Linked DNA regions of Homo sapiens: region 1 is linked to region 2. The links come from fine-mapping of genetic effects on plasma protein levels. A gene starts in region 2. The other region holds a variant in brackets. All regions are shown on one strand. Distances are from middle to middle.

Region 1 (15,832 bases), 54 kb after region 2:
TGAATTAAAATGAAAGTGAGCTTGGTGATTCTTAAATATGACATGTTTTTCAGTTTGTTTTACATACACAGACCCCCTTCGGAAGGAAAAATGTAATATAGCTTTCTCTCTGTCCTCTGCTACTCAGACAGCAAATTTAATGGGATTACCTGGAGTTAGTGTTAGAGAAACTCACAGGCCTTTCATTGTATGAATGGAGAAGCTGAGGCCCTGATGGGGAAATTAACTTGCCCAAGCAAAGCAGGGAGTTTTGTGTGGTCCTCATCCCTGCCTCCTGGTTCCTGCCCTGCCAGGTGTCAGTGTTGGCCTGCGGGCTGCTCTTCCACTCTGAGAGTCCTGTGGGTTTCATTTGTAAAGTGTCCTCTCCGGGCTCCTCCCTCCCCCTCCCCAGTCCTCTGTGTCCCCTTCACAGCCCAGCTTAGGCCCTCTGCCTGCTGAGGTGGGCTCCTGTCCTCAGCAGTCTCTCCAGCACACCTTGGACTTGGGGTCCTGGTCATGTATTTGCTCTTGATTTCACAGAAGGACAGAACCTCAGAATCATGGTGGAGACCCTCAGTGACTTTGTCTTGTAGGAAGAGAAACAGGTCACATTGTGGCAGTGACTAACCCAAGTTCATCTGACAACTTTGGGGAGGCTGCAGAGTACAGTTGTTATGAACAGGGGCTTCGGGGCCAGAGATTCTGATTGGAATCTAAATCTACGCTTAAAACCTCTGTTATGTTAGACAAGTAACCTAACTTCCCTAAGACTTGGTTTCCCTTCTCTATAGACAGCATAGTTGCTTTGCTTAACTCATGAAGTTGTTTTAAGCCACAATTCTGATAGCATCCTTGGATGTGCTTTGTAACCACAGGGCTGGTCTGTGGGAGATGGGGTTGCTAACAATGTCACTGCTGCCATTGGCTACTGCTCCCAGGACCCCTGGTACTGAATGGGAGCAATGGGGGATAAGGACAGGCTGGCAGTGGCTAATCCACAGTAAAACATCTCTAAAACGTCTAGTTTTTGAAGGCGGTCACAATAATCTGTATATTTCTGTTTCAAGAACCTTGTCTGGCACCAATAGGTGATTAAGACATGTGTGTTAGCTCAACATGTCACAACTGTCTTGGTATGGGACACTCTGCTGGGTACCGACGGTTTGATTAGTAGGTCTGCCGGTGAACCAGGAAAGGTGGCACTGCCCAGATAAGGCAGCAGGTGAGACTGCAGTGCTCCTGGAATGGAGGGAGGCTGGGGGAGGTGGGAGGACAAAGGCCTCTCTGGGCAGATGTGGAAGGCAGAGGCAGGCCAAGGCCAGAGACTTCTGTGGTTCTCCTCTGTGTGCTTGCTAGAAGACGTTAGGTGACCTGGGGAGGAGGAGAGGCTGTGCACTGCAGAGTGGGATGTCTGGCCCAGCCTCTGAGCTTGCTGGCCATGTGCACTCCAAGGAGTGCACCAATGCACCAGTGCTCTCTTGCAGGGGATTTTCCACAGTTCTCCTGGAGTGAGACCCAAGCCAGAGGCTTGTCCCAGAGGCTTATGGACCTGTTTGTCAGCATCTCACAGTTCATTCACAAGGGTCGCAATGGTGAGGCGGTTTGGAGATTGGCTGGGGCTTCTTAAGTGGTCAGAAATGTTTCTCAGGACTTGATAATGTCTGGGCTGAAAGTCAAAGGGGTGGGGAGGAATCCCAGGAGGTTTGTCTCCAACCACTCCCATGGATCATCCTGAGTCCTTAGGCAAAGGGGAGTTCCTCAGCCTAAGGAGAGAAAAAGAAGAGAAACTCAAATGAAGAAAGAGAAGGAGGCTGGGCGCGGTGGCTCACGCCTATAATCCCAGCACTTTGGGAGGCCGAGGAGGGTGGATCACGAGGTCACGAGATCGAGACCATTCTGGCTAACACGGTGAAACCCTGTCTCTACTAAAAATACAAAAAATTAGTTTGGCATAGTGGCATGCACCTGTAATTCCAGTTACTCGGGAGGCTGAAGCAAGAGAATTGCTTGAATCCGGGAGGTGGAGGCTGCAGTGAGCCGAGATCGCGCCACTGCACTGCAGCCTGGGTGACAGCGCGAGACTCCATTTCAAAAAAAAAAAAGAGAGAGAGAAGGAGAAAAAACCCAGAGAGAAAAGACATGTCCTCCACTCCCAGCTCCAGCATGACAGTGTCTCCATTGTCCCTCAGAGCGCTCCTGGGGCTCCCATGATGAGAATGGAGAAAGGGAGCCCTCAGGTAGCCTGACGCGGCAGGTGGGATCTCACAGCCCTGCCGCTAGGGAGTGTTCGCCCGGAAGAAAGAGGTGCAGACCCCGTGTTTATGGAGCCTCCTGTGGGCTCTGGAGTCCCTAGTTGAGGAGACTGATAGAGCTTCCTTCAGAGAGTCATGGTTCTTAGGGGAGGGGAAGACAAGAGACACAGTTGAGACCAGGGCAAATGGCAGTGAGGAAAATGCATCCTCAGGCTTCTGGGCTAAGGAGGCAGCTCAGAGCCCCAGGGTGGGCGGCGGGGTTGGCTGGGGTGCTTTCTGAAGGAGGGGAGCATGTAGGCCAGGGGGCAGTAGGGGATGGGATTTGCCCTTCAGGGAAAGACAAGGAGAGATTGTCTGGGAACAAGGCGGCACGACTTCCCAGGCTGAGTGCAGCGTGTGTCTGGGCAGTGGTTCAGCCACAGTGGAGAGAAGGAGGGGGCTTTGGTGGTGAAGGGCTCCCCCAGGGTGTCTCCCATGCATGGGGCAGGTCGGGCCTGAGCATGAGAGGTCAGGGCACATGGTCGACCTGTTGGGGGAAGATGGGCAGGGCCTGCTATGTGCCATTCTGTGGTCTTCCCTACAGATACTCCCACCATCGTCTCCCGCAAGGAGTGGGGGGCAAGACCGCTCGCCTGCAGGGCCCTGCTGACCCTGCCTGTGGCCTACATCATCACAGACCAGCTCCCAGGGATGCAGTGCCAGCAGCAGAGCGTTTGCAGCCAGATGCTGCGGGGGTTGCAGTCCCATTCCGTCTACACCATAGGCTGGTGCGACGTGGCGTACAAGTAAGAGGCTAGCCAAGTCCCTGAGGCCCACATCCAAAGTCACGGGGGTGCTTCCCACTTCCCCTTCTCTGTGGCTCTTATTTTCTGCGCTTCATTTACATTGCTTTTGTAATGAATAGAAATGGTAAAAGGGGAATCAAACAAAATCCGAATCCTTCGGGGATTGTAAGAGGGATGACTCTAAGCCACTTATTTAAGTGGCTTTCGATTCTGGTGCTCCTGTGAAAAAGCAAGGAAGGTTACGTAACAACTGCAGTTTTAACTGAGTCCTTGGAACTCACGAAACGTTACAGTTTACAGAGGTCTTCACAAATATCACCCGATTTGGCCCTCCCAGCTACTCTGAGAAATGGGTTCCTACCCATATTCCTACCCTTATTTCACAGGCGGGAAAGCCATGGTTTGGGGGAATTAAAAGCTCTGCTCAGAGAGAGGAAGCACGTACCCAGAGCTGTGTGAGAGCACCTGCCAGTGTAGCCCTTGCTCCTCCCCACCTCACAGGGACTCGCACCTGGGAAGCAGTGTCCCACTTGTTACCCTGAAAGACCACTCTGACAGCAAGTCCGGGGACCCCACCGGGGAGAGTGGGCTTTGGGAATGGCGGGGAGGAGAGACCCGCAAGAAACAAGGGAGGGCATGAAGGAGCTGTGCACTGTGCATTGAGTTTCTGCTCTGGGGATCATCAGTGGAAGCCCAGAACCTTTTCTCCCTTAGCCTCAAGAATGAGGAGACACATGTAGAAGGAGAGGGAAAGAGAGAGTGGGAATGGGGCTGTCCCGCATGGAACTCTAAAGACAAACATAAATAATTTCTGAATTATCCATTTTGGAAAGGAAAATCTAAGTCTTATTTATTTATTTATTTATTTTTAAACACAAATAAATAAGAGCAGCTGCAGGCCCTGGTTTTGGCCCCCAGCACCCCTGGGATGGCTGGGTCTTCCCTGTCTGCCCATGGGGCATGTCATGTCAACCACGACTCACCTGCTGCCCCTGCCACCAGCACCTCCACCATCCTGCTGTTGTCGCTGCTGTGTTTTCTGGTTTGGTCACTGTATTCCTAAGTTATTTCAGCCTCTGCATCTCTAAGTCAGGTTTCTACAGTGACAACTTGACAATCTCCAGTTTTTGCAATGCAGCTGACAGTAGCTGTAAGGGACTGTTCACACCGTACTAACCACAGGCTGCTGCAGGAGTGACCAAGGAACCTGTGAAAGTACTGGCAGCAAAGCCAGGGAAGGGGTGGACACACCAGGCTCCACACCCATTCCTCATGTCGACATCGGTGTAGGGTGGAAAGTCGGCCTGACTCAGTTCAGTGTCTTTCCTTGACCTAAGGGAGGTGTTCTTTCTGTGTTCAGTTTGCTGCGGAAACTCATGTTCTATTAAAAGATGAATACGGCAAAGTTGTGAAAACATCAATTCTGAAGACTGATTGGAAAGTGGAGGAGAGAAATTATAAAGAGGCAGGAATAAAAGAAGTAGAATAAAAAATTGATTTAAAAAGTAAATGTGAAAAAGGAACATTCTAAACAAATTTCTATGATAAAGAAGAGCTTAAGGAAATTCCTAAAGAGAATCTGAAGAAAAACATCAATACAAAAGGAACTATTGAATCTGGCATAATTATTTTAGAGAATGTTCAAGTGTTTGGTCCTATAATTTAAAAACATGATGTAGTAATTTTTAAGCTCTTGAAAAGCATTGAACTAATGTCCTCAGGTCCTTGAGTGTCATGCAGTCAAATTCCACTTTGAACCAAATGAGTATTTTTGAAGTGAGGTTCTGGAAAACACATGCAAGCTAAATCCCAACAAAAATTAAAATATATTCCCATGTCTCTTGGAGGTCTAAAACTGGTTATTCTGCACCTCCTATTGTTTTGTTATTGGAACATAGTACTTACTTATGAGCCTCCAGAACCCCTTTTCCTTTTGAGGATCAGTGAGAGGTTTTCATTTATGGAGATTTGCAGTAAAATCATTATTTCCTTCTTGTCAGCTTCCTGGTTGGGGATGATGGCAGGGTGTATGAAGGTGTTGGCTGGAACATCCAAGGCTTGCACACCCAGGGCTACAACAACATTTCCCTGGGCATCGCCTTCTTTGGCAATAAGATAGGTAAGGGTCACTCCCTGCGGACCCTGTGCTGGAGAGTTGTGTACACTCTCTTCCTCCACTCCCAAGGGTCAACACTCATCTTTTTACCCTACATCATACTTACCTTCTCTGATGATCACCCTTCTCTTGAAATTCTTTTCTCCTTTGGATCCTGTGACATGCATACTTTTTGTCCTCTGCCTCTCTTTACTGGTCTGTACTCCTGTGATATTGCTGAAGCTTGCATGGGCGTTGCTTGAGCTCACGGTTATTGCTGTCACTTCTAAAGTCTGAGGTTGTCTGACATAGATGCTGTGACTGCCAGAGGCAGAGAAGCATGGCTCATCTCTTATTCCAGTTCCACTGGTAGAAAGTGACCAGAAGGCAGCAGGCAAGGAAATCTGGAGGTATAATTTGCAGGCTTCTAGCCCCTAGAAAAATAGAGAAAAGCACAGAACAGGGATGGAGCTGAGAAATAATACATATGGAACCAGCACCTGCCAGCATCCTCATTTGACAGCTGGGGCTAGGTAACAGCATTTCTCTCAGAGGTTTTCTGTGAGAGTTATGAGTTAACAGATATAAAAAGCCTACTGCACACCTGATCAGGGGAGCTATGAGTAAATTCTGGTTGCCTTTTCTCCTGTGCTAGTGCACACCTGACTTGGTCAGGTGGGCCTCCCTTTGCATGTATCCTTCACTGCCTTCCAGCTCTTCTGCCTAGAGATGGAGTGGATAAAGTCTTAGCTTGGCTCTTGGAAGAAGTTTTCAACCTTGGCTGCTAAGAGATCTAGGTAGCTTCTCGCCTCTTAGGCACTCTGTTCTGGCAACTGGACCAGTTTCCTCTCTTCCAATCCAGTTATTCAGGCTCAAGTGGTCATATCATCCTTTCTGCAGGTGTCTGGTCTAGGTGGAGTTTCTTACTGACATTTTTGTGCTCCCTGTCCTCCTCTTTAAGGCAGCAGTCCCAGCCCTGCTGCCTTATCAGCTGCAGAGGGTCTGATCTCCTATGCCATCCAGAAGGGTCACCTGTCGCCCAGGTATATTCAGCCACTTCTTCTGAAAGAAGAGACCTGCCTGGACCCTCAACATCCAGTGATGCCCAGGAAGGGTAAGACCCTCCATGTCACCTCACCCTCCTCCTCGTCACCACCTAGCCATGTTTGGAGTCATGTTTGGGAGTGCTTTTTCCTGTTAGACCCCATGGGATTCTGGGACTAAGAACATCTCATGCCTACTTTGAGATCTGGAAAATTCTGAGAGGGCATCTTCCTGGCCTCCTCTCCATCCCATCAGAATGAGATAGCCATAGACTTCTTCTTAAAACAAATACATATGTACACAGATTTTCAGTCAGTCAACAAATATTTACTGCATAGCAGGCACTGTTCTAAGTACTGAGCATACAGCTGTGAACAAAACAGATGAAACTCTTCACCTTCAGGAAGCTTGCACTTCAGTGAGAAGAGACAGAAAATGAACAAAATAACAAAGAAATGTATATGATGTTAGACGGCATAAAAGCTATGGAGAAAAATAGAGTGGGAATGGAGTGGGATTAACATGTATACATAGTTGTGTCTATTATGTGGGGACACGAAGGACATACATAAGCTTACATACCTTTCTAAATGCAAAAACCAGCCATGGCCACAGCACAGCCACAGCTCGGAGAAAAGCTTGTGCTCACAGATGATGCTGACATCAGAGTGCATATAACAAAAAGCTGAGTAATAAAAATAATGCACTATTTTGAAGTGAATAAGCAGCAACCTAAAACCAGTCAAATTAATAAGCACTCCTGCTAGTGGACCTTTTCTTGGGATCAATGATATTTTTAGAATTAGCTTTTTAAAACTGTAAATCTCAAATAAAATGTTTCTTGCTTTTGGACAGGCACTATCTTCAATAATGATAATTTCTTAATATTTGTACAGTTCTCTCTAGATTTCAAGTTGTTTCCAAATATGTGTGATCAGTTCGGAGAGTCCACTGACTTCCGCGTAGTAGCCCTGTTACATAAGCGCACATACCTGCATATATATTTGCAATGCATGGTCTTTTGAAGACAATGACCATGCCTCTGTATAACCCACAGCCCTTTCCCTTCTGCTTATACGCTGATTTCTATTGGTATCAGGCCTGTAGATTTTTGCCTCAGCCCCTTGGCTCCAGCCATCTGAATCAGAAACCTCCCAACTGGACTTCCCCAGAATCCCAAAGCTGATATTACATTAGGATGTGCCCGTGGGTGCTGGAGGCCTGGGAGAGGCTGAGGAATAATCCAGCCTGGAGTTGAGTGATTGCTCACAGAGAGGCAAAAAAAATTCCTACTTCCTTGGCTTTTCATTTTACCACAGTTTGCCCCAACATCATCAAACGATCTGCTTGGGAAGCCAGAGAGACACACTGCCCTAAAATGAACCTCCCAGCCAAATATGTCATCATCATCCACACCGCTGGCACAAGCTGCACTGTATCCACAGACTGCCAGACTGTCGTCCGAAACATACAGTCCTTTCACATGGACACACGGAACTTTTGTGACATTGGATATCAGTAAGTGGGATCAATGCCAAAAGAACCCTCTTTTTCTTCAGGATTGTAGGAAGGAAGGCTGTGGGAGGGAACTGATGTTTCCTGAGCCTCTCCTTTGGGCTGGGTGGTTTCCATAAGGCATCATATTTTATTTTTGCAAGATTGGGCTGAGGATCATTCAGAGCATAGCTAATGGTCAGTTACCTCGCTTGGACGTATCTCCACAAGTGGTTGGGAAGATTCTGAAAAGAAGGCATTAGAAGCCTAGTGATAAAGCAAGACTGTGATACCCTCAGGGAAGGCCATGAAGGGTTGTACCTTTTTAATGCAATCCCTTCTAACCTGTCAGAGACAAAGGCCTTGCTCACTCCTATCTCAGTCTGCCCAGCTCCAAACTTGCTCTCTCCGATGTTAGAATCCTGCTATTCCTCTGGTGTTACTTACCTCATTTTATAGATGTAGGAACTTTTAACCTCTCTGGGCCTCTTTTGTCTCATCTCTACAATAGGGACAATGCTTTATCTGTTTGAAGACAGGGAGCAAGATCAAAACATTTTCTTTTGGTACCTTTAATGCCAGGTCTGTAATAAAGAAACACATTAAACTAATGGAGTAGAAGAAGCTGCTTGGAAGATGTCTTGGAATTTTCAAAGGAAGGATTTAGGGCTAGAGTATAATGTATTTCAATTATTCATCTGTGACTTAATCACAACAAATCTTACAAAGTCTCAGGTAGATGTGCTTTTGCACATGTGTTGTTCTGGGCCTACTATCTCTCCTTTTAACTCCTGTTTTAAAAGCAGCCTTTGCAAACAGGAGGGAACTCTTGCTTCACTTTGCAGGATTTTCCATAGGCTTTCTATGGTTATTTAGCACAGGTAACAAGAAATTGACTAAAAATCTGGAAATTCCACATGGAAAATGCCAGAAGGTGAGGGAATGTTTGTTTTCCTCTTTCACTCAGTCTTTAGAGACTCCATCCCCGTTCCTTGACTTTTCAAAACCTGTTGCAATATCCTTCTGCTCCAGCCTCATGATATGTCACCTGTAACCCTGATATGGACTGTAATCAGGACAAAGCACCCACTCACACATTATTTTCTAGTTTTTTAATCAATAGTTATTGGATAGCTACTATATGCCTGGTGCTAGACGAGATATATCAATCTAACAACAAACAGAGAGAGATTCTCCAAAGATGATTAATTTGGCCAGGCACGGTGGCTCATGCCTATAATCTCAGCATTTTAGGAGGCCGAGGCGGAAGGATTGCTTGAGGTCAGGAGTTTGAGATCAGCCTGGGCAACATAGGGAGACCCCATCTCTTCAAAAAAATAAAATAATTAGCTGGGTGTGGTGACATGTATACCTGTAGTCAGTCCCAACTACTTGGAAGGCTGAAACGGAGGATCGCTTGAGCCTAGTAGTTTGAGGCTGCAGTGAGTCATGGTTGTGCCACTGCCCTTCAGCCTGAGCAACAGAGTGAGACCCTGTCTGAAAAAGACAAAAACAAAAGCAAGAGAATAAAGATAAGTATTTTATTTGAGAGTGTAAAGGGAATTTGCAAATCTGGGATATGCATGCTACAGGAACCACAGGCATATCCAAAGAGGTTCAGGCTAGGGGAAGCTTTTAAAGGCAAAAGGCAAAAGTTTGTTTTGAAATAAAGGGAACACTGGAGAACATTGGAACTTATCGCGGGAGGTGACACCAGTTCATTAGTGGAGACAGTGTGCTGGGCAAGTGTTCTTCATCAGCCAGATGTCCTTGTGACTAGTAACAAGCTGCAGTTTTGAAAGTTTTTGGCAAAAGTTCTTGTTACAGGCTTGTGTGCGTAAGAGTCCTTCAGAGAGTCTTTGTGCTAGTTCTTATTGTAGGCTTGTGTGCATGAGGGTCCACCCTTTTCAACCTCCTGGCTTTATTTATTTTTGTTAGAGTTTGACACAAGTGACTCCATTTTGATTCTGACAACTTTCACTGATAGATATGAGAGAAGGAG[G/A]GCTAACAAGTAACTACAAGTCAAAGTGTTTGAGCACTGTGATGGATGCAGAACAGGATAATGTATATGATGAGTCTCTAATCAAGGCTTTGTGGGGGGTGATTGGGGTCTGAGAATGGCTTCTAGAGGGAGGAGTATCCTCATTGGGACATGGATAAGCAGTGGGGTTTATTCAGGCAAAGAAGGAGGAAGAGTGTCTGGGTGAGGAGGAACAGTATTTGCCAGGGCCCGGGGTTCAGACAGAGCATTACAAATAGATTTGAAAGAGAGGAGTGGTGAGTAGTAAGGGTGGGAAAGCCTGGGAGGGGCCACATCACGGAGGGCCTCATAGCAGACTCAGAGAGACTGACTCAATTTGAAAGGCAGCTGCAGACTATTTGGGAGGTCATGCTCTATGATAGGATTTGTATTTTAGAAAAATCACTCTGGGTGCTACTTTAAGAATGGGTTGGAAGGAGGCAAAACTCTGGGCAGGAAGCTATTGCAGTGATCCAGTGACTTGCAGTGGGATCGTGGCAGTTGGTCTAGAAAGAAGTGGAGGAATTTAGAAGCTGTGTAGGAGATACAATTGACAAGCCATGATTGGTGACCAGGTGGGCTGAGTGAGGGGGTAGAAGGCATTCAGGGTGTTGTCCAATTTTCTAGCTGGATAAATTTTAGAAGAAGGTGGGTTTGCTTGGACTGTTTTTACAGGTAGTACTTGAAGCTGTGGCAATGATTGTCCAGGGTGAATACGTTGAGTGAGAGAATGGCCTAGACTAGAGTGCGGAGGAGCACCATGTTTGAGGAAGGTAAGGTGGGGTGGGAGAGGGGCCTGAGGGAGCAGCAGGAGGAGGAGAACAAGGAGGGTTGTGGTTGTGGAAGCCCGGGGAAGGGAACATTTTAAGAGAGTGGTCAACAGGGTCAGTGTAGTCTAGAAGTAAAGTAAGTGTCCATTGTACTTAGTGCCAGGAAGCCACTGCTCACCTTGGAGGGGTCAGATTTAGTGGTGTGATGGGAACAAAGGCCAGGTTGAAGTGGACTGTGGTATTTTTTTGTTTTGTTTTGTTTTCTGTCCTTGTCCACATTGGCACATAAGAGATCTCCAGTCAATATTGGATGAATGGATGAAAGAATGAATGAGTGGTTGAAGGAGTGAATGAAGTATTTAAATTCTGTTTCCCAGAGTGACTGTCTTCATTTTCTTTTCCTGACCTAAGCTTCCTGGTGGGCCAGGATGGTGGCGTGTATGAAGGGGTTGGATGGCACATCCAAGGCTCTCACACTTATGGATTCAACGATATTGCCCTAGGAATTGCCTTCATCGGCTACTTTGTAGGTAAGGGGTGAGCATGGGGTAGAGGGGTGCTGGGGGTTGAAGGACCATGCAGCATGTCTGGGAAGCATGGCGGGAAAGGCAGCCCTGTAGTGCCTGGCAGTGTGAATGGAACATTTTAGCTTTAAAGTGGACTCTTAATACAGGATGTCACCAGGATCCCCTTTCAGACAGAGCATTTACCCCCAAATCCACCCATCCCCATGCCCAGCTCCACCTTGCTTTATATCCAAGGCAAACATGGAGCAAGGGGGGAAACGTCTTTTGCAAACTTCAGTGCTTTTATCGCTCAGTTGGCAAATGTGTCCCCTTTCTTGTTAGCCATGGCAACAATTTGGGGAGCACCACTGCCTGTTATGGAAAACCAGTGGGCGGCCCAGTGGTGCTGTATCTGCTTTATACCTGCTCAGAAGTGGTGTGTTGTGCTGCAGTTCTCCTCCAGAACAGTTTTTTATATTTATTTATTTATTTTTGAGATGGAGTCTCGCTCTGTCTCCCAGTCTGGAGTGCAGCGGCGTGATGTCGGCTCACTGCAAGCTCCACTTCCCGGGTTCACGCCATTCTCCTGCCTCAGCCTCTCGAGTAGCTGGGACTACAGGCGCCCGGCTAATTTTTTTGTATTTTTAGTAGAGATGGGGTTTCACCATGTTAGCCAGGGTGATCTCGATCTCTTAATCTCGTGATCCGCCTGCTTGGCCTCCCAAAGTGCTGGGATTACAGGCGTGAGCTACTGCACCTGGCCCCCTCCACAGCAGTTTTTAACCTTCTGGAAGAAACTTTGGCACGGAGGAATCAGAGAAAGCAATGACCTTGTTTTCTTTTTGTGCCTGATTGCCACAATTTACGTAAATGTGTTGGCTATGGTGATGGCGGAATGGGGCGTGGTGGAGGAAGAAAGAAACTGGAATCTAGGTGCTTGTCCCTTCCCTAATCAAGAAACTTTGAGCCCCTAATGACTGATGGGGAAAATGTGTTTTGCAGAAAAGCCTCCAAATGCTGCAGCGCTGGAGGCGGCCCAGGACCTGATCCAGTGTGCCGTGGTTGAGGGGTACCTGACTCCAAACTACCTGCTGATGGGCCACAGTGACGTGGTCAACATCCTGTCCCCTGGGCAGGCTTTGTATAACATCATCAGCACCTGGCCTCATTTCAAGCACTGAAGGAGGCCCCACTCCCTTTGAGACTGCCCTCCCTCCCCTGCTGGGTCTCTCCAACCCTCACCAGCCAAGGTGGCTCAGCACCTTGTGTCCCCCTCCCCTGCCAGCCCATCCTTTCTCAGGTTTGAATGGTCATGTCCTTTCCTGCCAACATCCTCCAGGAGCCCCCAAACCTCACAGCTGGGCATTCACAGCCCTCTTGGTCTGAGTTTAGACTTCCCCTCTCTTTTACCTACCTCTCCCCTGGGCACTTACCTCCTCAGTCAGGCGAGACAATGGGCTGGTCCTTGTGGCATTTCTCTCTCTCTCCCCCCAACCCCTGTCTCCTCTTCTTTCTTTCTTTGCTTCCTTTCTCTTTCTTTCTTTCTTTCTTTCTTCTTTCTTTCTTTCTTTCTTTTTCTTTCTTTCCTTCCTTCCTTCCTTCCTTCCTTCCTTCCTTCCTTCCTTCCTTCCTTCCTTTCACCTTCTTTCTTGCTTTCTCACTCTCTCTCTCTCTCTCTCTCTCTCCCCCTCTCCCCGCCTCTGCCTGGTGAGCCTTCCCTGTTTTCTGCCTGGAAGCCCCCACCCTTCATCCCTCACCCATGACCTAGGTCAGTGTGCCCACCCCCCCTCTCTGCTCACACATGGACTGGTACATATTTGGATGCAGCCCTTACTTAAGGGCTGTAATTATTTATAGATATGATTTATAGATATGTCTGTCCTCTCCTCTGGGTTGTAAGTTTCTCCAAGGGAGGAATTCTATTTTATTCATCTCTATCCTCAGTTCCTCAGCAGTGTTTGGAGTTTAATAGGTTCTACAGATGTTTGTTAAAGAAATGGATGAATAAATGAATGAGTGGACCCAGGTCCCTGTTCACCTTGCCAGTTTGCTTCGGAACTTCCCCTCTGAGGCAGCCTTCCTGGATAGTGTCCCCATCCCACCAGCAGCATTCTCTCTGTTCCTGTTCCCTCCCAGTCCAAGGCTCAGAGCTGGCTCTGGTCGTCTGTCTGTAATGGTGGCTGTATTGTTAGGGTCTCGCGTCCATGTCCCCCAAGAGCACCCTGAAGGCAGGGAGCATGTGCTTCTCTGGGTCAGGCCAGGGCTGTGTCCACACAAGCTGCCCAGTGCCTGCCACTTGCCCTTGCCTGGCTGGGTCCCACTGGGTGTTGGGCTGAGAGAGAGCCCAGAGCCCTGGTGCTCTGTAGCCCTCCCTACCTGGGCTCCTCTTGCCCAGAGGGAAGCTCCTTTTCTTCAGATGGGGGCATGATGACGTACTGCTGTTTACCGGAAGCACGTGAGCTGGCTCTTGTTTTCACGGGTTTTGATCTGGAAACAAGGGAAGGTGTTGACAAAGAGTCAAACTGTGTAAAATATTTGAAGAGATTTATTCTAAGCCAAATATTAGTGACCACGGCCTGTGGCACAGCCCCAGCAGATCCTGAGAACATGTACCCAACGTGGTCAGGCTACAGTTTGGTTTTATATATTTTAGGGAGACATGAGACATCAATCGATACATGTAAGATGTATATTGGTTTCGCTGGAAAGGTGGGACAACTCCAAGCAGGAGGTGGGTGGGTGGCGGGGGGGGCGTCCAAGTCATAAGTGAATTCAAAGATTTTCTGATTGGCAATTGGTTGAAAGAGTTATTATCTAAAGACCTCCAACCAATAGAAAGGAATGTCTGGGTTAAGATGGGGATTGTGGAGACCACGGTTTATCATGCACATGAAACCTCCAGGTAGCAGGCTGCGGAGCTCTTATCAGACCTAAAAGGAGCCAGACTCTTAGTCAATTCTCTCCTGGATCAGGGAAAAGACCTGGAGAGGGAAGGGAATTCTCTACAGAATGGGAATTTTCCCCACAAGAGACAGCTTTACAGGGCCATTTCAAAATATGTCAAATAAATATAGTTTGGGGTAAAATACTTCAATTTCTTTCAGGATCTGCTAACTGTCATGTTGATATCTTATAGCAACAGTCTGTTTGGTCAGTCTTAAGATCTCTGTTTTAAGGTTAATGCTGGTCAGTTGTGCCTGAATCCCTAAGGGAGAAGGGTATAATGAGCCATGTCTGACCCCACTTCCCAACATGGCCTGAACTAGATTTTCAGGTTTCCTTTGGAATACCCTTGGCCAAGATGGAGGTTCGTCAGTCAGTTGTGGGGATTAGAGCTTTATTTTTGGTTTAAAGAGGGAAGGAGGAAGAAGGGGTGCCAGAAACATGGGCTTTCTTCCCCCTGTACATGTTTTGAGTACTGATGCTGTGTCTTTGCTTCCAGTGTTTCACGTCTCTTACAAAGCAGGCTTTAACGGCCTAATCTGTATACAGCTCTGTGCTTTCAAAACGGTCCCTCCGATCTCATTAGATTGATTCTGTCCATTTGTCATTTGCCCTATGGCATCCTGGTTATGTAAGCAGGGGAAGAGTGGTTTGTCTAGAGGGTCACATAAGCCCAGGGAGACTCAGAACTCTTGCTCCATTTATACAATCAGAGGAAGGTGGCTCCAGTAGAACTCCTGTAGTGAAAGGTCTTCCTCCTGCAGTAAGAAGTGACACTCCTGCTAGCCCCCTTCTGGTGGAGGGGTGGGGTGTGGGCACAGGCTTCCCAGAGGAACCTTCCCCAGCAGGGGTGAGTTTAACATCCCCTCATGCAGGAAGTAGCCAGAGGGGTAGACTGAGATGCTGAGAAATGGTTTCATGAAAAAGGTATCCTTATAATTCTTGGCCTTCCTTATAATCCTCCAAAATAGAGGGTCTCCTCTTTTTGATTTAAACACCATTCCCAGGCCTTAGGGACTCATTGACCTCCCTCCCCAACCTCCATCCCTTATGAACTTTAGAAGAGACTGTAGACTCCCCAACTCCATCAGCACTCATGAAGGCCTCAAAACAACAATATTGGCTGGGCGCGGTGGCTCATGCCTGCAATGCCAGCACTGTGGGAAGCCAAGGCGGGTGGATCACCTGAAGTTAGGAATTCAAGACCAGCCTGACCAACAAGGTGAAACTCCGTCTCTACTAAAAAAACAAAAATTAGCCAGGTGTGGTGGCAGGTGCTTGTAGTCCCAGCTACTCGTGGGGCTGAGACAGGAGAATTGCTTGAACCCGGGAGGTGGAGGTTGCAGTGAACCGAGATAGCGCCACTGCACTCCAGCCTGGGCGGCAGAGCAAGACTCTGTCTCAAGAAAAAATACTGCATGGTCTGGATTATTGTTTTTCCCAAATTATCTACTTTTATTGATCTTAAACATACTAAGTAAAATCAGAGCACTCAACCGGCAAATGCCCCTTCCTTCCTTCCTTCCTTCCTGTTTTCTTGAGACACAGTCTTGCTCTGTTGCCCAGGCTGTAGTGCAGTGGCACTATCTCGGCTCACTGCAACCTCCACCTCCTGGGTTCAAGCAATTCTCCTGTCTCAGCCTCCTGAGTAGCTGGGACTATAGGCGCCTGCCACCACGCCTGGCTAATTTTTGTATTTCTAGTAGAGACGAGGTTTCACTATGTTGGCCAGGATGGTCTTGATCTCTTGACCTTGTGATCCACCTGCCTCGGCCTCCCAAAGTGCTGGGGTTACAGCGTGAGCCACTGTGCCCAGCCAGCAAACGCTCTTCCAAGGCAAATTCAAGGCAGCTTATTCCAGGCAGTTTGCTTCTCCTGTGTTCTTTTATAGAGAAATTCTTCCCAGCTTCCCCTTAATCATTTAGAGTGAGGGGCAATACTAAC
Region 2 (15,166 bases):
AGTGTCACTCCCAAAGGGGGAAACTCTCCTTTCCTGGAGGAATTCAGGCAGGGTTGGTTCAGTCACTTGGCAGGGATGTTGGCAAGAATCACTCTAGAGTGTGGGTGGGGCAGATTGGATTAAGTCCATAGTTTTCACACTTTTTTCAAGACAAATCTCTTCCTTCAAATCAAATTGGTCTGATTGAACAGGGGGTGGAGGGGCCCTCCGATTCCATCAACTTGCTGCTCCTTACCTTCAGGTTTGAGATTCTGTAATGCTAATGCAGAAGCCTTCCATTTGCAGGTTTTGATCTCCTCTTGCTTTTTTTTCTCCACATCATCCCTTGAGAAGAGAGCATAGAACACGTGAGAAACCTAGGCCATTATACAGGCAATATTTGCTGAGAACCTTCTATGTAGCAGCCACTACTCTAGGTGCTGAGAATAAATCAGAAAAAAAAAACAGATGGACTTTGCTCTCTTGGAGTTATCAGTCTGGAGGGGTAGGCAGAGTCATAAACATATTTAGGCACATTGTGATAAGTAGTGGTGGGCAGAGGGCCTAGGGGGAGCACTTACCACCCTACTGGAAGCATCTGGTCTAAGGCCCTCCAATCCCCAGGATGCTTCTCTCTCCTCATTACCAAGCTGTGTTCAGAAGGGAGTGAAGACAGTGACTCCTCCCTGGATGTGAGCATGGGAGCAGAAGGGCTGTCAGAAAATGAGTGTCCCCAGCTGTCAGGTCTCCAAGTCAGGCACAGAAGGGACTGAGGAGGGCTTCTAGACTCTGCTGCCTAAGCTCTCAGCCTGAGACAGTTCCTGGAAACATCCTCATACCCTCGAGTGGGAGCCCTTAAAACCCTGCACCCAGAGCGGAGCCCCCAGGCCCTTAAAGCAGGAGTCTGCAACAGGCAGGTTGGGGGCACAACCATAGCCAGGCTGTGAGGGGAGGGCTGAAATCCAACACTGGCAGCTCTATATCTTCCTGCTCTGCACTGGGGAAGGGGCTGGGGAGGTGCAGCCAGTGGGGCAGATATGATTCAAGCTACTTTTCGTACTGCATTATTTTGAGCAACTCTGTCATTTGTGTGACTTTGGACTAGTCTCTTCTCCATATTACACCTCGGTTTCTTCACTTATGAAAAGGGAGAGTAGGTGACTGCTAGTCTTCCCAGCTTCCCCAGATCCTAATTCTGTGAGTCTTCTTTCTGCTGAAAGGACAGGGGTCAGAGGACCTTGATCTGGACTCTGGTTTTTGGAAGGCCAAACCCCACTGGTTATAACCTAGGAAAGGGACTTTATAGCCAAAGGGCAGGAAGATGGCAGAGGAGTCCCTGAACTGAGCACTTGGATCTGGGGCAGCTTGAAGGGGGAGCTGCAGCAGTAGCCCTGAGGCAGCTAGGGCCAGGCCTGGTAGTAGGCTTTGCAGAGAGAAGCAGATACTTGTGCTGGGCCCAGCTCTCAGCTACCCACCAGAAAGGACAGCTGGCCCTCAAAGCTTAAAATCAGAATCTTCAGACCCCCAGGCTCTCTGGACCCAGAGCACAGACTCCTCCTGGTAGTCACGGAGTCTTTTAGCTGCAGAGCCCGGACTGGAGCTCATTTCTTCACTCTGCCATTCTGTTGAGACCAGGGTGGGCATAGGGCTAAGCTCTCAGACTCCCACTTGTGTGAGCACTCCCGTTGATTAGGGTGGCAGGTCTGTTAAGAGAGATCCAATTGCTCTCTTGGATCCAGAAAAAGTGTGAGAGTAAACACACCGGATCTGTCCTTGTTTCCACTGCCTGGGTGCCAGTATTCCTCCCCAGACATGGCACTATCTAGGTCCATTTCTGGAAGACTTTCAGAGGAATAGAATTCTGTTAGGAGAGAGAGAGGGCTGTGTAGACAGTGATGGGTGAAGACAGGCTTGGGGCTGGTTGGTGAGGTAGCAGGCATATCAAGGGGTAGAGATATGCCTTTTTGCTTTCTACAGTGTACAGTGACAAGGGCCATTTGTCAGGCTGGACAGGCTGGACAGGGTGTCTGAGATGGGGCAGGGAGCCTGGGATCTGAACAGTGGGGCCTGAAGTCAGAGGTGAGGACATGGTCAGGGAGGTGAGCCCAAGGGGCCCAGCACAGACCCATGTTTTGCTGCTTCTCATTTTGTTAATACTGAATGAGGGGGCTGAGTCACAGATAAGGACAGGGCTGTCTAATGCCCAGAGCCCTGGGAAGGCAGGGTTGGAGAAGAGGTGGAAGAAGCACACAGAGCACTGACTTGGAGGAAGAGACTTTATTTGGCCCCAGCCCCTAGCCCCACAGCCAAGACAGTTTGACATAACAGGCCCCGGGGCCCTGGTTGGGTAGAGGCAGGGTGGCCTGGCCTCCTGATTAGTGGCTGTGGCCGTGGCCACCATGACTGTGGCCGTGGCCGTGGCCACTGTGATCTTGGCCACTGTGGTCTTAGGGGGTGCCCTCCCCGAGGCCTGGCTTATGGTGGTGGCCAGGGCCCTCGTCACCCTCGTGCATCTTCTCGTGGGAGGCCCAGGTTAGCCTCGCCATCAGCATGATGAACTCCTCGAAGCTCAGCTGCTTGTCTGCATTTGTGTCCAGGTCCTCCATGATGTGTTCTATGACCTTTTCATTCTTATTCTCCTTCTGCGGGTGGGGAGAGAAGGCTGTGAGAGCTGGGTGTGGCCAGAGGTGGGGACTGGGAGCACAGTAAATGACCAGCTGGCAAATGTACAAGGGAAGCCTCACCCTGGGGCTGGATTTAAAAATTAAAAATGACCATAGGCTGAGTGCGCACAATGGAGCAGACACTGAGCACATACCAAACGCTCTCCAGTTTATTCCCTCCATGACCCTGTGACTTGGGTGCTGATTCTCTATTTATAGAAGAGGAAGCTGAGTTCCAGGGTCTTGCCCTGGTCATGGCATGAGTAAGCCTGGAAATGTCACCTCATTTGGTCCTTATAACAACTTTAACAGCTAGGAATGGTATCTTCCTGGAGGAAGACTTGAAACCAGTCCTAGAGAGGGTCATTAGTTTTCACAGCTTGACTATTGAGGGCATGCAAATTCAGATCTGACTTAGAGGCCAGTTCCACTCTGCTACCCCTCTGCACTTCACTCCTTCCCCTGCCCTCCCTTCCCTTCCCTCTGGAGGTTACCAATTAGTGAAACTTATTTCAACCAATACAACGGGGAAACACCTAGAAAAACTAGGTGTGGGCAGGGGAGATGGAGGGTCAGAGAGCAGAGTATGTGCTCCGCTGACCTCAAGGGTGTGATAAAGTATAAAAGGGGAGATGGTCGGACAGGGTGGCTCATGCTTGTAATCCCAGCACTTTGGGAGGCCGAGGCAGGCAGATCACCTAAGGTCAAGAGTTCGAGACCAGCCTGACCAACATGGAGAAACCTTGTCTCTACAAAAAATAACAAAATTAGCCAGGCATGGTGGTGCATGCCTGTAATCCCAGCTATTCTGGAGGCTGAAGCAGGAGAATCGCTTGAACCCAGGAGGTGGAGGTTGTGGTGAGCCGAGATTGTGCCGTTGCACTCCAGCCTGGGCAATAAGAGCGAAACTCTGTCTCAAAAAAAAAAAAAAAAAAAAAAAAAGGAGAGACATCAGGGGAGGTGGAAGACCCAGACCCAGGCGGGGTCCAAGAGAGCACTGGTTGGTTCCAGCTCTGCCACCCTCTGGCTGAGTCACCTCGCTAAGTCCCCTCCCAGAACCTGTGGGGTACCCAGCCAATGCGAGCACTCTCCTGTGCAGCCCATCCATGAGGCTCTGCTTCCTTTCCCACAGCATCGCTTTGCTTCTGGTGGGGGATGTCAGGTGGGGGGTGAAGCGGGCATAGGGGGTCACATGGAGGATAGTTTTGCCATGCGGCCTCTCTGCTGGGCCCTTTCTTGCCTACCCCACCCAGCATCCTGCCTGCCTGAGGCCTCCACCTATGGAGAGCTGTCAGGGCCCCTAACTCTGAAGGCTGCAATTCTCCACCTTACCAAGGCGGAGGGAGGGGCACTGGGAGGGCTGGGGACCTACCCCAGGATGTCTGGCTCCGGGACTGGAACTGAGACTGAGACCCATGTGTTCCACCCTTCTTAATGCAGGCCTCTGTTTCCCGACTTTCCCCAAATTTGAAAAGAAAACAAAAAGGCTGTTGGAAGTGCTCAGCCTTTTTCTTAGAACTGCCTAATCATTTTTGGAGCGGGGGAAAAACCTCCCAGTTCCCTGAGTGCTGTGCAGGTGCTCTCCATGTGCTCTTTATGCATTCATTTTCCACCGCAGACCCTTAGGATTAGAAAAGCCCCCAAGTCTTCCACCCCAAGTTCCCGCCTGAGGCTTAGGGTCTCCTCAGCTTTGTGCCAAGTGTCATCCTCAGGGGCTTCCCTCCCCAACATTCGGGGCTCAGCTCAAATGTTACCTCCTCAAAGAGGCCCTTCTCATGTACCCTAACTGGTCACCTCCACCCCACCCAGCCCCATTGCCCACAGCGCACTCTATCTCATTTTCTTCCAGGCACTTATTGGCATTTGGCTTTATCTGTGCTCTTTATTGGCCAACAACTTTACTGTGTGTCTCCCTCCACTGGAATAGTGGGCTCCCCATTTACCACTACATCCCTCTGCCCAGAACAGGGCCCGACAAATAGCAGGTGTTCAATTGAGCAATTTCTTGACCCTGTCGTCCTGTGTAACTGTGAGCACCTGCCCTGTATAACAGGACACTCGCTGCGTCTTGGGGCTGGGCTCCAGGAGCTCAAATCTTCCCCTTGATTGCTGTAGCCCATACTCCCATCCTCCCTTGTCAACCCAAACTGCGGTGAGGCTGGGTCAGACCTGCCAGAGTCCAGCCCTACCTTGAGAAAATTTTGCAGATCTTTTCGCACCAGCTCTTTGAATTCCCCCTGGTTCAGGGTGTCTGGGTGCCCCAGCTTCACAGAGTATTGGTGGAAGGTGTTGATGATGGTCTCTATGTTGCGTTCCAGCTGCGACATTTTGCAAGTCATCGTCTTGCACTCTGTCTGTGTAATGGAAAACCAAGAGTTGGGACACTTAGAAGAAAATGCTGTCAAGCTTCTTTGACACTTCCTACTAAGCACTCACAGAAATAGTGGGGGAAGTGCAAAATAAAAAGAAAGCACAGGCTGCAACTTAACTGGGAGATGGCCTGTCACACACATGTACAAAATGATTTTTTAGAATATCTACAGAGTGCCAAAAAGCAAAGCATTTGAGGGCAGGAGGCCCCAGGGGAACATGACCTAAGAAAATGTGAAAGAAGCTTTAAAGTAGGCAGGGCCAACCAAGGAGGGCTTCTAGGAGGAGGATTTGGAAGGAAGTTGGGTCAGGGAAGGAAAGAAGGAATCGGCAGGCAGGCTTCTGCCTGGGGAAGCTGGCAGCTCACTTACCAAAGCCGAGGAGCCACACAGAGTGTTTGCCAGAGCTGTGCAGGCTCGGCATTTATAGGCAGCTCCTGACTGGGGCACTTGGCCCTTTGGCCCTGTCTCCGGAAGATTGCTTCACAGGTGAGCAGTGTGGTAATGCTGCCAGGAAGGGGGCTGGGGCGGGGCAGGAAATGTTCACAGAGCGCCTTCTGCTTTTTTGTGAAATTCCCAGCCCTGGCCTGAAACTGGTTTGGGAGGAAGCTGGTTGTTTAGTTCATTTCCCTTCTATCCTAAGGCCCTACTCTCCCCGAGCGAGCCTGCTGCTCCTCTGGCACCACTCAGCCCCCCATCCCCTTTGAGGTTGAAGCAGGCTGAGGACCTATGGGGGCCTGACCCTCTCGGCTGCCCCCCATGGGCAGTCTGCCCCTTCCTTTTAGTCCAACAAGGATGGTCTGAGCTCTCACCCATGCTTGCCTGGCTCTGTGATACTTAGGATGGCGAGGGGTTGGTGTTCTTAGATTCATAGGGTGAGATTTGGGGTTAGAAGGGTTCTCAGAGGTGGGCAACCCTCTTGCATTGTAGATGAAGAAACTGACACCCGGAGATGGACCTGAGCAAGGTCACATAGCTGGTTGCTGACTTGGCAGGAAGGGGACCCAGCTATTCTGGTTCCTGGTTAAGGGCAATTCTGATGATACCTTCCTCTTGCAGTCTGAGTGAGAGAGCCTCAGGGCGAATATGTTTCTAGCATCTCTCAGCATCATTTTTCTAAATCCTGCTCCCAGCAAGGGTTCCAGGAACTTATAACTTGGGAGACAACTGTTTTTACTTAGCCTCCTGGTGGGCAAGATGTGTCCTTCTCCTGCTACGAACCTCCAGTTGCTCCCCATTGCCTATGGAGAAAGCTTGGCTTAGCCCTGCGCACAAAGCCCTCTTGGAATGGCCCTGCCTGTCCGGCCAGCTTCCCTTTCACTACCTCCCTGCCCACTGTGGGAACACAGGGCCCACCTCCCACCTTGCCACCCCAGGAGTGCCCTTCCCCTACTCCACAGTGATATCCTGCCCGCCCCCACGGCTCAGTTCTAATGCACTCTCTTCCAAGGAGACTGCTCTGTGCTTCCCATTTGGAAACAGTTTCTGTCTTCCTGACTATGATTCTCATACCACTTCTGGCTCTCAACACTTGCTTTCCTGGAGTAAAATTATATACATATTTTGCCTCTGTCCAACAATTGGCTGTAGATCCTCAAAGGTAGGTTCTCATTCATGTTCTCCTTCTCCTATGCACACAGCCCGGGGCTTGGCAAGAGAGACACCCTCGGATTTGCTGATTGATCCTTGCTGAAGTCCTTGCTGGCATCCTTTCCCGTCACCCCTGGAAGCCAGTATGGATGATCCACCCTGGGACTCCCTCTTGCTTGCTGCCCCCTCTCTCTATCAGGAAAGATGGTTCTCTTCTTCTACCTGCACTGGTTATTTTGTTCTGTCTCCATGAAGCCTTCCTTTATTGCCCCAGCCCCTCCTGACTGCTTTGTCCTCTGAAAGCCTGAGGCAATCTCTGTGTGTGCTAAGCATTGGCCCTAAGCATGGCCTGCCTCACACTGCTGAGATGCACCTGGAGTAGTGGTTAAGACTTCAGACTGTCTGTGTGACCTTAGGCAGTTTACTTAACTTCTCTGTGCCTTACTTTTCTTATCAATAAAATAGGATAATATCAGGACTTACCTTGAGGATTGCGACAATACATGGAAAGTTGGGAAGAGCTCAGTAAATAAAAGGTATTATTACTAATAATCTTTTCATTCATTTATGCAACAAATATTTGTTGAGCACCTACTGAGTGCCAGATATGAATGCTAGATGCTGGGAGAACTTGATGAGTGAGTCGCAATACAAAGGGGAGACATAATCTTATATCCTGTCTTCCAAATTACGTTTTAAACTCTTGGTAGCTAAGGACAGGGCTTGGCACAGTGCTAAGCACACAGCAAGCATCTAATAAATAAATGAGTGCTTGAATACATGAGTCGCCTACGAATGAATGAACGGTGCAGACACAGCTCAGGAATACATGAGGTAGATTTCCTATCCAAGTCCACCTTCCATTGTTTAAGCTAATAGAGGAAACCCAGCCAGCAGCCAGCAGCCAGCAGCCAGCAGCCAACCCTGTGTGCCAGTGCAGCCTGTTCTGCAGTCCCTGCACAGCCCCAGGCGCCCTTCCTGTGTGCTCCCATGGCGCCCTCTGCTGCCTCTGACAAAGCACTTCTCACTCAGGACCAAGGATCTCCAACTCACCCTTGCGGGAACCAGACCCAAGGTGAAGCTGGTGGGGCATGAGAACATCAACGGCAGCAGTAGGGCAACTTGTGGCCACTGATATGGGGCCTCAGGGTTGGGGACACTGGACAGTGGTGGCAACTGTGGGGAATGAGAACGTTCCTACCTTGAAGGGACAGCCAGTGTCAGGCCAGGGCTGCCACGTGGGAAAGTAGACCAGATGTTCTTGGACCTCCTGAGGGCCCAGGACATCTGAAGCTTTATATGAAAATTCCTGTTTAATACAATTTGTCCATTAATTTAAAATAAAAACAAAAAAAGCATGACAATGAAGCAGGGTGTGTGTGACTCAAACCCTGAGTGATGGTGTGCGGCAGGCATCTCTGCTTTGTCATGGAGCTCTCAACTTTCAGGTGGACTTTCTGATTCCTCCACACCACTGTGGCTCCTCTAGGCAGGGATGCTGCCTGCTACCCTCCAAAGTCTTAGCACCAGGCAAGGGCTGGCTCAGAGGCACTGGATGAACGCTTGTTGATTGAATAAATTCAGGAGTGCATGAATCAATGATGAAATGAGTGAATGTGACATAAACACTGGCCTGTCACCCTCTGTTCTGTGACTTTCTGCAGAGCCACTGACTGTGGTCATTTAGTGCTGATTCAGAATGAAAGTAAAATAGGGAGTTGGGGGAGAGAAGGCTCAGCAGTGGGTGGGAATGAGCAGCTGGTCAGGGTTTCAAAACAGACGGGAATCTGCACTTGGGGGATCTGATGCTGACAGTGGGCCCCCATCTTAGAAGGCCACTGCAGGCCCCCAGGTTCCAGGCTAGCCCAGGCGCAGGTGAGGCCAGGGCTGAGCCATTCTGGTTCTGACCGGAGCAGACAATTCCTGGCATGATCAGTAGGTGGCCGACACCCACCTGCCTCCTCACTGCCAGCCGAGGCCAGAGGTTGGACTGAGGGATGGTGGGATGGGGGTCTTCCCCTCTGGGTACTGATTTTCCAGGGAAAGTCGGAGCCTTCTGCTAGGGCATGAAGTGGGTGGGCCAATTTTCCTGGCTCTGTACAATGACTCGAGGTTTTCACTGGGAGAAAAGGGTGTGGCTTTTTGGGTTAAAAAACAAATAAGTGGCCGGGCACGGTGGCTCACGCCTGTAATCCCAGCACTTTGGGAGCACGAGGCGGGTGGATCACAAGGTCAGGAGTTCGAGACTAGCATGGCCAACATGGTGAAACCTCCATCTTTACTAAAGATACAAAAAATTAGCCGGGTGTGGTGGTGCGCACCTGTAATCCCAGCTACTCAGGAGGCTGAGGTAGGAGAACCGCTTGAACCTGGGAGGCAGAGGTTGCAGTGAGCCAAGATCGCGCCATTGCACTCTGGCCTGGGTGGCAGGGTGAGACTCCATTTCAAACAAACAAACAACCAAGCAAGTAAACAAACAAGCAGGCAGAGGTTCCTGCAGCTACCATCAAATCACTGTGCTCTTTCCCAGATGCCTGGGACCCACTGCGGGTCTGTCTTTCCCTTCTCTGCAGCTCCCACTGTGGTCTTTCAGGGAGCTTTACCCCTCCTGTGTTGTAATGGGGGTGTTACAGCAGGCACACAGTGGGACCCGGACTGAGGGACTGAGCTGGTTTTAGTCCTTAGCTTTCTCAGACTTGCTGGTGGTCTTTAGAAGTGATTTCCATGTTCGGGCCTCCATTTTCTTATCCATTACATGAGGAGATTGGGACAGCTGACCCTTAGGTCATTTCTAGCACAGATTCCAAGTTTTGATGGACTCTTGGTGGGCTTCATGACTACTACTAGCCTCATGGCCCCTGGACACTGTCTCCTGGCTTACTTGCTCCACCTGCAGGTGAAGTCAGGTCCCTCTCCTCACAGGGACTCTGATGCCTGAGGCCCAGCCCCACTCAGGCTGCGCACAGCCTGCTGCCTATTCCTCCACTCCCTGTCTTCCTCCTTGCTGGGAGTCCCAAGTGCTCTTCCTTGGAGATCTCTGGGTACGGGTCTCCTAACCACAAGCGCCCTAACATCCCCCATTTCCCCAGTGCTCATTCTAGACTCTAGTGCATTAGGATGACTTACAGAAGCTATCCACGGGTAGCTTCAGACCATTGTTCTACCACGTTTGGGCTCAGTCCACATCAAGCTTTGACCACCCCTGGCATCCTTGTGGCCTCCCTTGACTGGCCATCCTGAGGTCTCTGAGGCCCTCTGCTGAGAGCAGCCGCACTCCCTGCCCCCATGCTGGGCTGCTCCAGCATCCACAGTGAGGACCCTCCAATGATCTGGCTTCTTAGACATTCAACCTAAGCTTCCCCAAGTCTGGACCTCTCCCCCTGTCTCCACCTTGGCTGCCTCTGCTCATCATCCTCCTAATTTCTCAGACATGCCACCTTCAAAATTGAGAAAGCTGGCATTCCCTTTTGTTGCCTGGCTTCTGTTGCTCCAACCCTTTCTCCTCCCCGATCTCTTGGGAACCTGGCTTTTGCGCTCACTATGTCCCTAGGTTCCAGATCTCTGCAGAAATTTTTGGCGAGTATCTCAGCATCTGGCTTTTGGCATCCTCTGCTCTCAGGACTCCCTTTGAAGTCCACAGCCCTTTGTAAAGAATAAAGGGTTTTCACACTCAGCAGGCATTATAATCACTGGCGTTTGGATCTGTCTCCCTCATTATATTATTAACTACTTGAGAGCAGTGTTCTCAATGTACTCATCCCTGGATGATAAGCTTTGCATATGAGTGACACCTGACAAATGTTTGCAGAATAAAATGAATGACTGGCTTGGTTTGGCCAGAACTTATGCTTAGGAGATGGCTATGCCCTGTAATTATGAAGGCGTTGGTGGATAAAGCTAGTTAGAAAAAAAAAAGACGTGCCACACAGAAGCATGAAGGTAAGGAAGGAAGTGGAAGGGAGTGATGGATAAAAGAGGTTGCTCAGAGACTCCTAGTGAGTGAAAGGTGACTCCGGAGTTATCAGAGGGCGCATGCTGCCACCTTGTGGCCTATCTGCATCAGGACAGCCTGTGGGATTCCTTTGGCCCCAGGTTTTTAATCTTTTTGCTCTCTGGACCCTTTTATATGTATTCATAGAAGTTATTGAGTATCCCAAAGAGCTTTTGTGGATTAGATGTATCAGTATTTACTACATTAAAAGTTTAAAAAATTTAAAATGATTTATTAACTCACTTAAAGTACCATTAATAAACACATTACGTATTACCACGTTTTTAAACAATTAAAAATAATTATATATATATGTCAAAAGCTAGTGAGAAGAGTGTTTTTTTTTCACATTTTTGCAGACCTTTTTACTGTATGGCTTCAAAGAAGACAGCTGGTTTATCACATCTACTTCTGCATACAAGGTATTGCTGTATGTTGCTTTGGTTGAAGATTTGAAGAAAATCCAATCTCCCACAGATAAGTAGTTGCAAAGGGGATGAATACATTAATAGCCTTTAAATATATAATTGTGGATATTCTTCTCTCATATTACATCAAAACCCAACAAGTGATGGTTTCTCAAAGGTTAGTTGCAACGTAAAGTCTGAAACCATATCAATGAATTATTTGTTCTCTGTTACATTAGAATCAATTGGTCCCTCTTAAAATTTAATGGATCTTTTATCCAAACTTTGTGACTTCATATATTGATCATTTGGAAAATATTGGTTGACTGAGTTATGTACGTCTTCTAAATGCTGACATCATTTATTACTCTCTATATATACATATTTATATATATCACACACACATATAAATAAACCACATTTGGCCGGGCGTGGTGGCTCACGCCTGTAATCCCAGCACTTTGGGAGGCTGAGGCGGGCAGATCATGAGGTCAGGAGATCGAGACCATCCTGGCTAACACTATGAAACACCATCTCTACTAAAAATACAAAAAATTAGCCATGTGTGGTAGCACATGCCTGTAGTCTCAGCTACTTGGGACACTGAGGCAGGAGAATCACTTGAACCCGGGAGGCAGAGGTTGCAGCGAGCAGAGATCATGCCACTGAATTCCAGCCTGGGCGACAGAGATAGATTCCGTCTCAAAAACAAACAAAACAAAACAAAACAAAAAAAGCAAAAAAGCCCCACCACATTTGTTAATATCACCACTGATCCTGTCAGTAGTCTTCAAATATTGGGAAGCTGTCAAACTCATGGTGGCAGACACAAATTTTCCAAAATTCAAATTTTTGACTGAAAGCTCCAATTTTATTATGCTAACAAATTGTAGTTGTTTTCCCGGAAGTGAAAGGCTCACTTTGTTAATTTTCAAGAAAATGTATGCCGCATACCCAAATATGAGTATCCATAGTTTGGCTATCATTTGTTCTATGTTATTTGTTCACGGCGTCCATGAAAAGTGGCTGGTTCAGCTCACAACTGTAGCACACAAATGCTTTTCCTTGAGAGAATCAGGGTTGAGATTTAATAAAATGAGTAATTTTCACTGCTTCATCAAAAACATTCCTAAGTGAGCCTCCTTTTCTTGAAAGAATACATTGTGAAGAATACAATGACTGCTAGTGCAGTCTGACGCCACACATAGGTTCATGTCTCTAACGGTTTTTTCTACCATTGTTTTTGTGTCATCAGTGCAAATATCAGCACAGTGAGGAAAGTGAGGAGCCGGGAGTCTTGGTTTGTGGGCAGTTTCCTGTGGTGGGAAGTTCAGAGAATATTGTTCTGGAATTAGTTTTGATCTCATGGACCCCCCCAAGGGGTCTTGGGGTCCCCCAGTTTCCCCTGGGCCACTTTTTGAGAACCACTGCCTTAGGTACTTGAAGGTATGCATTATTTGAGGCAGGTCGGTGTGCTGGCTTGCTTTTCCTTTCCATTTCTTCTTTTGACACCTTTTAAAAGAGTGTCCTGTTTAAGTCTTTCTTTCTTTCTCTCTTTCTTTCTTTCTTTTTTCTTTCTTTCTTTCTTTCTTTCTTTCTCTCTTTCTTTCTTTCTTTTTTCTTTCTTTCTTTCCTTTCTTTCTTTCTTTCTCTCTCTCTCCCTCTCTCTCTCTCCCTCCCTCCCTCCCTCCCTTCCTTCCTTCTTTATCTGACAAATGCTTATTGAGTTTCTAACATGTGTCAGCATTATGCCAGACACTAAGCTAAACCCTGAGACTACAGAATAAAGTAAATTCCCACTTCTGTGAAATTCACAGCTGGAGGGAGGCTTAAGACAGAGGACAAAAAAATGTAAATATAAATAATGATAGTATTAAAGGCAGGTAAAGAGATAGACTTGGGAACTGCTCTTGAGGAGATTATAATTACAATTCATTCAGGTGCTAGAATGGAGAAGAGAGACTCTGAGCCTCTACCAGTCCCAACTAGTCACGGAGCCCTTTCCAAAGATGCCAGGCTGAAGTGGAGCCTCTGGGCGCAGGTGGGGAGCGAGGCTGGGCACTTGGGAAGGGTCTTGAGATGGTGGGAGGTGGGGCAGAGAGCACTGGGAGCCTGCTCTGGCAGCGTGGAGTGAGATGGGGCTGGGGGCCAGATAATTTAGGACTTAGGAGGTCCTCTCGGGATTCTGAGTTCACAGAATCAGAGAGGGACAACCCACACTGCTCTCTTCCTCCCTCCCGATGCCCTCGTCCCGGACAGCCCTCAGTCTGTTAGTCCTCAAGAATCTGTTGGTCTCTGGATGGGGCAGAGAATCTGTTGGTCCCCTTTGGCAGCCACCACCCAATCTCTTCTTGGGCTTCCCCTCCCCAAGCCGCTCCAAAAAGGGGAACCGAGTCTCCTCAAGTCCTTGGTGCCCCGGATGCAAGCCCAGAAACCTTCTCATTTTGAGAACTGTTCTACTTATTTAGGATGGGCGGCCAGCAAAAGGCATGGAGAAACAGCATGTTGCCAGGCTGGGGAAACTACCAGGGTCCCTACAGTGCTGGTCCCAGGCTGCAGTTCTTGGTCTCCTTCATCTCTGTCTCTGGCTCTGCCCCACATTCACCCTCACCCCAGGACAGAGCTCAGCAGCCCCTGCTCATCACACAGCTCCAGCCTGGGTCTGGGTGCATGACTGGGATGAATGCCAGGTAGACCTGGCGCATGCTCAATGGGCCCCATCCAGAGAGCGCTCCTGGGGAGCCCAGTCTGAGAGTGGGACTGCAGCTCACTGAGAGCAACTGTTCTGGATTCAGGGCACTTCCTAAGTGTCTAGGGAGGCTGCCCCACCCTCCGGGACATGAGAGGCTCTGCAGGTCCCCGTGGAGACTGCATCCTACTGCGTTCTTGGAAAGTGTCATGCAGAGTTTCCTCTGTGAAGACTCAAGGGCTGTAAGTCCAGGTTGCAGAATGTGGAATGAGATTAGGTGACAACTGGAACATGGCGAGGAGCTGGAGATTCTTGGTTTGTGGGAGGCTTTCTGTGGTAGGTGGCAGCTTGATGCCGACGGTGGGGAGTGGCAGGCGGGAGGATGATGGGCAGACATGTAAGCTATTGGGGCAGAATTAGGCATCGTGAGCTGTTTCCTGAGATTGTACCTCCCAGTTTCTCTCTGTCCATCCTGACCCTGCTCATGACCCTGGTAAAAGGTGGTGTTGGTGAGTGACTTCAATCCACAGTCTTCAGGCTCCTGGAGCAGAACTTCACAGGCAGGAAGTTTCTAGATGTTGCAGACACAACCCTCAGGCCCTGCAGGCTTTCCCAGGTTGGGGCTGAGGACGAGCTCTCGGGAGTGTTGGGCAATCTTGCCCTTTCCCAGGGAGGAGCTACCTGGGCTTATTCACAGGGCGGGTCCCCAGGTGCTCTCAGCCTGAGTCTGGTCCCACTTGCATTTCTCCAGGTGCTGTGAAAGGAGCTGGCTCAGAGCCTTGCCCTCTGTCTTCCCTTCTCCCCATCTTTTGTTAGGGATCCTGGGCTCTCTTCTCTCTGGGAAGCTAGAGCCCGAGTGCTCCATTCCCAGGGAGGGAGTGCCCTCTAGGGCTAGGGAGAGTGAAGGCTGGAGGAGAAGGCGCCAGTTGGTGAAGAAGGGCAGGGCCTGGAGGCCAAGTCTGGAAGGGAAGGAGCTGCTGGCCAATCAGGGGCAAGCTGACTGCACCCTGACCTGCTGGGCTGGGACAGCACAGGACCCACAGATATCTGTGAGTTGAGTATGTGTTTCTTCTTCAGAAGCCCTCTTCCAGCAAAGGGACTGGAATCCACCAGAAAGAGTGTTAAGGATTGGATTTCCTCTGCCCTAGAACTAGGAACCCCTCCTACTCCTATATCTCCCTCATCTGGCATATTCCCAGCTGGGAAGGGATTCTCTGCATAAGACCCATCCATATGAGTCTGGATTTCTCGGTTGTACCATTCTTGGATCTTACTTCCTTTGTCTGTAAAAATGGGGGTTAACAGTCTTACATGACAGGATTAGTGTGAGGACTAATTAAATAAGACTGCATGTGCAAGTGTGTACACAGCCTTGCACGCCGTGGGCACGTGATGAAATTGAGTTCCTCGGGTAATAATAGGACAGGGATGCTGAGCACCTGCTGTATGCTGGGGGCCCTGAGAAGACTGAAGCAGGT

Which allele goes with the higher level. Alleles are on the strand shown, and positions count from the first base shown. The strength of an association depends on the size of the effect and on how common the allele is.
As copies of A replace G in region 1, the plasma level of the protein whose gene starts at base 14,424 in region 2 goes down (weak association).

The links. PIP is the posterior inclusion probability: the model's chance that the variant is causal. Protein levels are from antibody-based Olink assays in UK Biobank. Linkage for the fine-mapping came from a reference panel and not from the study's own genotypes, which makes the PIPs less certain.
Region 1: its variant is fine-mapped to the plasma level of the PGLYRP4 protein (UK Biobank, PIP 0.97).

What each region holds. Positions count from the first base shown.
Region 1 is chr1:153,294,250-153,310,081 of GRCh38, reverse strand. It overlaps PGLYRP3 (peptidoglycan recognition protein 3), which reads left to right. Exons shown (of 8, transcript NM_052891.3): 3 at 2,815-3,016; 4 at 5,017-5,135; 5 at 6,073-6,225; 6 at 7,475-7,673; 7 at 10,851-10,969; 8 at 11,948-12,966. The coding sequence ends at 12,126. Among named protein-coding and RNA genes, the nearest start is that of PGLYRP3, 11 kb to the left of the region's middle. The variant G/A (reference allele first, on the strand shown) is at 9,652.
Region 2 is chr1:153,348,099-153,363,264 of GRCh38, reverse strand. PGLYRP4 (peptidoglycan recognition protein 4) reads left to right here and starts at 14,424. Exons shown (of 9, transcript NM_020393.4): 1 at 14,424-14,737. It overlaps S100A9 (S100 calcium binding protein A9), which reads right to left and starts at 5,411. Exons shown (of 3, transcript NM_002965.4): 1 at 5,384-5,411; 2 at 4,832-4,996; 3 at 2,242-2,621. The coding sequence starts at 4,981. The coding sequence ends at 2,427. RefSeq lists silencers at 9,465-9,514, 10,540-10,589.